Homo sapiens: one gene and its partner. The protein of the gene in region 2 purifies or fractionates together with the protein of the main gene of each other region. This does not show direct contact. Each region holds a gene or a part of one and is shown on either strand. Other genes may lie near its edges.

Region 1 (3,653 bases), on a different chromosome or scaffold from region 2:
TTCCCAACTCCTACAGTCCCAGGTACTATCTGTACCTGTAACAATTCTGCAGTCTTTACTGTTAACCCTGTGATATGCTGCATCCGACGATTTACTCGGGCCACAACAGGGTCATCATCTTCCTCTAGCCAGGAGCTGGGCAAAAAGAAAAGGGCAGAGAAAAGAAGACGGAAGGGCAGGCTTCCATGAGGTCCTGAACTCTGTCCCCAGAGTCAGGGCCAGCATGAACAGGCAGTACAGGATGCCTGCTGCAAGGGGGTGAGGAGGTGCCAGCAGGCAGGAAAAGGCAAGCCACCCATCCCTAGGGTAGGCACTGAGAAGTCCTGAAGTTGGGGCTTGAGCAGCTACGAACCCCTGCTCTTTGCTTACCTTTTGGAAACCCGGTAGCTGGCGACAGTGAGGACTCCTGTCTTGGGATCACGAACGGTGGCTCGTGCAAGCTAGAAGGAAGGAGGAGAGGGAAGACTTGATTTGTTTGTTTGTTTGTTTTGCCTTGAATATTTTCCCAGAGAGCACTGGGACCAGATTTACTGCCATGCTAGTGGAGGAAGCTTTGCAGCCAATGGCTCTAGCCAAGGCCCCAAGATCCTGCAGGCCAGTTGAGGGCAAGAGTCTGAGGCCTCCACATTCCCAATCCGCAATCAGTTCCTGGCTATTGCCCTGCTCGGTCACTGCTCATCCCTTCTCCTCCCCAGGTCCGCTTTGCCTGCAGAATTATGCCTGCCTTGTCTACCCATGCATCTGCCTGACTAGCCCCTTTCCTTGCCAGGCCCACATACCACCCCTGCCTGAGCACAGCCTGCCTGAGCTTAGCTACTCCCACCATTTTCAGACTGTGCCACCATGCCTGAGCCTCCGCCTTATGTACTTCTCTCAATTGAGTCAAGTTCCACCATCCTTCCGAACCTCAGTGGGCTCCTCTGCCAAGAAACCCATCCAAACACTCTCCTGCTGCACCACCTCACACTGGGTTCCCACAGCCTCAAGAAGCAAAGACAGATGGCACAGTTTTCGCTCCCTTGGGATCCTTACAAGTCAGATGATAAAACCAGGAAAAGATTCTGTAAGTTAAAATAAGTGAACCACTGCCTGGAAGCCACCCACTCATACAGGTACACACTACACATGCACTCCCTGCATCTACTTCATCTCCCCCAGCCTCCACAGTTAGGCTTAGTGAAACCCCAAGGGGGACTCGCCGCCCAGAGCCAGCCAACATGGCAAAGGTCCATGTGCTTCAGCTGTGGACTGTCCTCATGACCTCACATGGGTGGGGCCATAGGCCCAGGTACTCCCACCCCAACACACTTCCCCTTGATTTCAATAAATATTGATGAGTGCCTACTTTGTGCCTGGCACTATGCTAGGTAACTGAGACATGGCCCCTGCACTCTTACAACTCAGTCAAGTGGGGAAAGCAGAAAACCAGTCAGGTAACTGCAGCACAGCATGGGTGAACTTACCATCCTGTGGAAGCTCAGGGTATAGTGTCAAGAATAGCTTCCTAGGGGAGGAGACCACCTAGCTGAGGCCTGAAGGGTTAACATGAGTTATCCAAGTAGAGGAACATTACAGGAACAGGGAAAGAGCAGCAATCCAGAGGCCTGGGAATGAAAATGGGTGTTGCAGTAGGTGTGGATTAAAGGTTATGGGAAGTAGTAAGAGAGAACAGGCTGAAGAGACAAGCAGGGGCTAGGAACTAGATGCAACCTTGTGGCCAACGAGAAATGGGGAAGGCTTTATGCAGGGGAGGGACACTCAAAATGTGAATGTAAAATGGATCACTGTGAATACCTCATGGAGAGTTGACTAATGAGGGGCCAGAGTGGGGACTGGGAGGCTAGTGAGGCCACGACAGAGGTCAGGGCAAGAGATGATGGTGGCCCGGGCCAGGTGGTGGCAGAAGGGATGGAGAGGAGTAGATGGACCAGAAGGCTAGTAAGGGGGTGAGATGGACCAACTTGGACACTGTGCTGCTATGGCATGATCTGGTAAGATGGCCAGCACAAGCAGGACAGACGGCTCCCAAGCTCCTACTCATGGCCCTTCCTGAGCTTCAGCTCATGTCAGTCCCTCCCTGAAAACTGCAGCCACAGCCAGACCCCATCCAAACATCTGTGCCTCAGCATTGGCCTGACACCCACAAAGAGGCTCTGAGCAGCTGTGCTCTGCCCCAGGGGAAGCACAGGGCTATTTTGAAAGCAGGCCAGAGACCCCACAGACAGCTGCCAGGCATTCCCCACAGGCCAAGTTAAGCTCATTGGCTCTACTTCAAAGCCAGAATAGCATCTGTCCCTCACAGTCTCCGGAAAGGAGGGGTCAGCTTATCTTTGAATAGAAGCCATGTTAAGAGCCAAACATGTTTGCCAACCTTGTTTGGCTCTTTGCATGGCTTCTATTCAAATATATCTTTTCCTAACACTACCCTCTGGCCAGCCACACACATGTGTACACATATGCACACATGCACAGAGAAATGTTCTCAGTGTCTGGAACTGAAGAACGGGTAAGAAATCTCTCAGGAAATCCTGGCACAACCAACAAAGTAGTTTTCTTTCCTGGAGGACTCTGGAGCTGAGTAGAAAGGGGAGTCCTAGTCCCCATTCTCCATATATCTGGCTAGCCCCCTTCCTCAGCCACATCGATGATGCCAACCACTGACTCAAAGCCCTAGATGTCCTAGTACCTCAAGCCAAAGCTGTTCCAAGATGAGGTCCAGGGGCCAGGATAGGAACCTATTTCAGGTCTCTCCATGAGTGTCGGGCCTCCTGGTCACCTCGGCCCCTACAATTCTATTAGGAGCAGAGCAATAGAGAATCGAGCTAAATCCTCCCTCCCAATCATCAGTGATGGGATATGGCAGCAAATAGGTCTCTTTGAAAGATGTCAAATGGGGAACAAATCTTTTATGAACTAGAAACAGAAGAATAATTTTAAAACATGGCATATATACAAAACCAACAGCCAACTGCATTCTTAGCAGTAAAATACCATAGGAATTTCCAGGAAATTCAGGAATGAGACAAGGATGCCTATTCTACGTAATTATGCTCTAGAAGTTCTGGGCAATTCAATAAGGTTATAAAAACAAAGGAACTACAAGTATCAGGAGAAAATAAAATTTTCCTTATTTCCAGGTGTTAATGCTATCCAGGCAACCAAAGAGAAATCAGCTAAAAACCAAAAAAGAAATAAGTAAATTCAACCACTAGCTGCAATCTGTATGAGTTTGCTTTTTCATAGGTAAAACAGAGACAGTGACATCATTATGAGCAGCTGTTCATAACTGTGACATAACACTTAATATATATGTTAAGCACTTAGAAGTTCCTGCCACAGTTAAGAATTCAGTAAACATTAGCTCTTACTATGAAATGTATTTGTAAAATCAATAGTTTGGCATATAATAGTAAACTAATAAAATAATGTAACCAGTTAAAAATAATAATGAAGAAATAAAGTAAATTAACAGTAACAAAGAAACTACCAAGGAATAAACTTAAGAAATGTTCAAGGCTTATATGAAGAAAACTTAAAAAGATATGGAGAGACCTGTCATGCCCTTGGATGAGAAGACCCAATATTATAAAGATATACATTCTCCTCTAAGTCATTCACCTCATTTACAGTCCTAATCAGGAGCTCCACAGGAC
Region 2 (3,653 bases):
TTAAAAAATAGTAACTGACTGAGCAGACCAAAGAAAACTGAATCCTAAGTCAGCGATGAGAAAGCAAAGACAATGATTATCATGTCAGGACCCTCAAAAATTCAGAAATTAAAAGCTCCAGCTACCAGAACATTTGCATCAGCCAAGTATATACCCTCTAGATAGAATACTGGAATACCTTATCTGAAAAAATCTGATTACCACAAAAAGAAAAACACCTAAAAATACTGACATCAGGGAATGTGAAAAAACAGCCCTCCAGTGAAGCCTGCAGTCAAGCAAGTTCTATTCAGATGTACAGAGCTTCCAATCAATTTTAGCAGCCCACCGTTACATGAGTGAATGGCCAACAATCAACAAACATTTCAGAAAAGTCTAAGTCAGAAGATAAAAATAACTAACTTAAATAATCAAGTTGAAAACAGACTATGCAGGAAAAGAAAAATCTAACAGAAACAAAACAGCCTATCATTAATATCCTTTGAGAGAGGAGGGAAAAAGATATTGCATTACTGTAGGCATGAATAATAAGATGCTACAACTAAATAATAAAGAAAAATTTTCTTGGAAATTAACAACAGAAATGAAAACTAAGTACAATAACATTATAAGAATAAAAAATTCTCCCAGATAATGGAAAAGATGAAAAAGAGAAAAACAATAAAAAAAATTAGAAGACCATTCGAAGATATCCAATATTATCTAGAATAGAAAAGAAAGCAGAGAAAAAAGTAAAAGAAGAAAGTGTTCCATAAGTGAAGGATATGTGCTTCCAAATCGAGAATGCTTGGTACAATGGATGAAAACAGACCAAGACACATAACTGTAAAATTTCAGAAAACTGGTGACAAAGCTCATACATTCACAGCCGGGGGCGGGGGGGGGGGGGGGGGCCGGGGGGAAAATCTATGCATATGTGCACAAATGAATAAAAAATATTTTAAGAAAACGTTGTAGTCAACGTTTTCTCATACATACATGTTATCTATTCCCACTAGTCACTTCTCTCTTGCCATTCACTCTAATTAAATAATTACACAATTGTTTTTGTACCCAATTGAGTGGCTTTATTTTTATACCTATTAAATTTCTTTTATTTTGCTTTTTAAAAAAACTTTATTCATATTGAAGTACATAAAAGGCTGTTACCTCAAGAATGTCAAAACACTGTTAAGTGTTGAAGCTGTATGATAAGCACCTAAGGGTTCATGTGTACTATTCTACTTGTTACTGGGTTTGCAAATTGTTTAATGAAAAGTAAATAAAGTTATCTTAAAGAGGCTGATGGGCTGTCTCACACTTAAGGATGAAAAAATTCTATTTGCAGCAGATATGAAAATAAATTTTAATTCTTAAATCCACTCCTTTGCCCATTCATCCTCATAAGTGAGTTCAGGCCCTAGTTCATTTTAGTCCCATAGTATGGCAACAGCTCCCTATCTGTTTCACACCCCTTTCATTCTACAGCCCATCCTGCTGCCAGTTCCTTTTCTAAATACCAGATCTGCCACTTCATTCTACTGCTCAGGAACTTTCAAACAGCTTCCTATTGGCTACACAAATGTTTGCAGGTTAGTTTAAAATCAATGTCCTGCTCATCATGGCCCTATTTCCACCATTTCCTACGGACCACAATATACATAAAGAAAAAATGTTTGCCACACATATTCTTAATACACACCCTATTCCCAAATCAGTATTTCTACCAAACATATTAGTATTTAAACACACTATCAAGGCAAGAAAACCATGAAGACTGTACCCATCGAATTAAAATCTTTCATTCAGAATCCAATCAGAATGGAATACTCTATGACCTCCTCTCACATAGCCAAAAGAAACTTCAAAATAAATTTTTCAGTACACAGTATGTATATAAAATACACATTCATAACGGCTACCTTCAATGAGACTGACCCCTAGGAGTTTCTTTTTATTCTCTTTTTAAGTCTACTACAAAAAATGAAGTATACAGAAGCTAACAGTTTATGATGGCAGTTCTCATTTCTATTAAAAGAAAATAAAATGCACTGCTGCTAATGAACTAGTTCATTAAGACAACTTTTCTACCCATTGCAGTCAAGTTTAATATATTCAATGCCTATATAGACAATATAACCCAGAAAAAACTGATGACCCTTTAAAACACAACAGACATCATCACATACTTTCAAAATATTTGCAAAAGAAGAACCAAATACTTACGCAAAGTAGGATGTAAATTAAAATAAAATTATCTATATAGAACTGTGTACAGTAGAGTGGTTGTATCTGCAGACATAGCACACACACTGCATAAGGCAGTATTCTGGTGGACAGGGCTGCAAACCCAAAAGGGGAGCAGTGGTCTCTTTCCAGTCCACTAAAGTTCCCTGAGTATACAACCCAATCTAAAAGCCACTCCCAATCTTCATCCCAGTGTCATTCAATATAAGAGTCAACTATTAAGGTAAAGAAAAAAGAGTACACAATCAGTTTTCCATAAAAGAACTATGACAATATAGTATTATTCTTTGGACTGGGTCTGTGATCATACCATGGAATGGAGAAGCCAGAAATCAGACTTGTTATACAAGTTGTAGTATCAACCTCAAAGTCTCTCACATAAACCTACTCCTTTTAAGAACAAATTTTTAAAATCAATGGCAGTATCTCATTATGTTGAGTTCTTAAAGCCTCTCAGAGAATGCCTAAGATTTTTGAAGATATCTTGAGCTATCAGGGCATTACACCAATGATATCAGTGTTATAAGTGTCATAGAGATAAACAGTATGCCACCTTCCTTACCATTTTTTTAAAGAGAACAAAAAAGTTTCCAATTCTGTTGATAAAGATTAGAGTATTATCTACAATGAGAGCATAATCTGTTGCCACTAACTTTTCTATCCTACAAACATGTATTACGACTCAAAATGAAATCACAACATATAGCAAACAATAGTTTTACTCGGCATTTGTTAGTATAATAGGCTATAAATTCACATGCTTGCAAAAGTGGAGATAAAACAACAATCAGCAAATTTGTAAGTCACCAGGAAGCTGAAGGTTTGGAAAAAAGGTAGCTATTTCCACTTTAATCTTGTCCCTTGAGTAGTGGCATGGGAGCAGACTCAAGAACAAAAAATGAGAGCAACCAAGGATAATTTACTAAAATTCACCTTAAAAAGATTGAATCTGCCATCTTGGATCTCTGCACCTGGTGTAACTTCCATAGTACAGTCTTCGGCCTAAGTTAAATAACATATTCCCCATTAAGATACCACATAATATTTAATTAATAGGCCATATAAAGACAAACTAGCTGTGGCTAGTCTGTGATTTGAAAGTAAGAACATCAGATAATCATTAAATACGAAACTCTAAAAGGGAGGGAAGGGAAAAACAAACATGGTAAACAAAATGGAATTTTTAAACTATCATATAGCATTTAACCACTTTTATAGGGAAGCGATTTATTTGGGGAGTAAAAGTGGGACGGTAGACAAGCCAAGGGTATTCCGGAGTATTTATTAATTACCGTAATTTTATTTGTAGTAGAGGTTACTGGTATAACTTCAAGTCCCATTCGTATCCTCTTTTGTTTTTCACAGTAAGCTTTCCAGGTATCTTCATTAAACCCATAATTAAAATAATCAGAAAGATCAGCACCTAA

The links.
Region 1: the proteins of FIP1L1 (region 2) and P4HA2 purify together in Homo sapiens (co-immunoprecipitation; 3 studies listed by BioGRID and IntAct, with this or other methods). This does not show direct contact.

What each region holds. Positions count from the first base shown.
Region 1 is NC_000005.10:132,203,713-132,207,365, forward strand, and holds part of P4HA2 (prolyl 4-hydroxylase subunit alpha-2 isoform 2 precursor), read right to left. Parts: intron 441-3,653; coding exon 370-440; intron 136-369; coding exon 36-135; intron 1-35. UniProt on the Homo sapiens protein: Catalyzes the post-translational formation of 4-hydroxyproline in -Xaa-Pro-Gly- sequences in collagens and other proteins.
Region 2 is NC_000004.12:53,391,005-53,394,657, reverse strand, and holds part of FIP1L1 (pre-mRNA 3'-end-processing factor FIP1), read right to left. Parts: intron 3,650-3,653; coding exon 3,519-3,649; intron 3,229-3,518; coding exon 3,160-3,228; intron 1-3,159.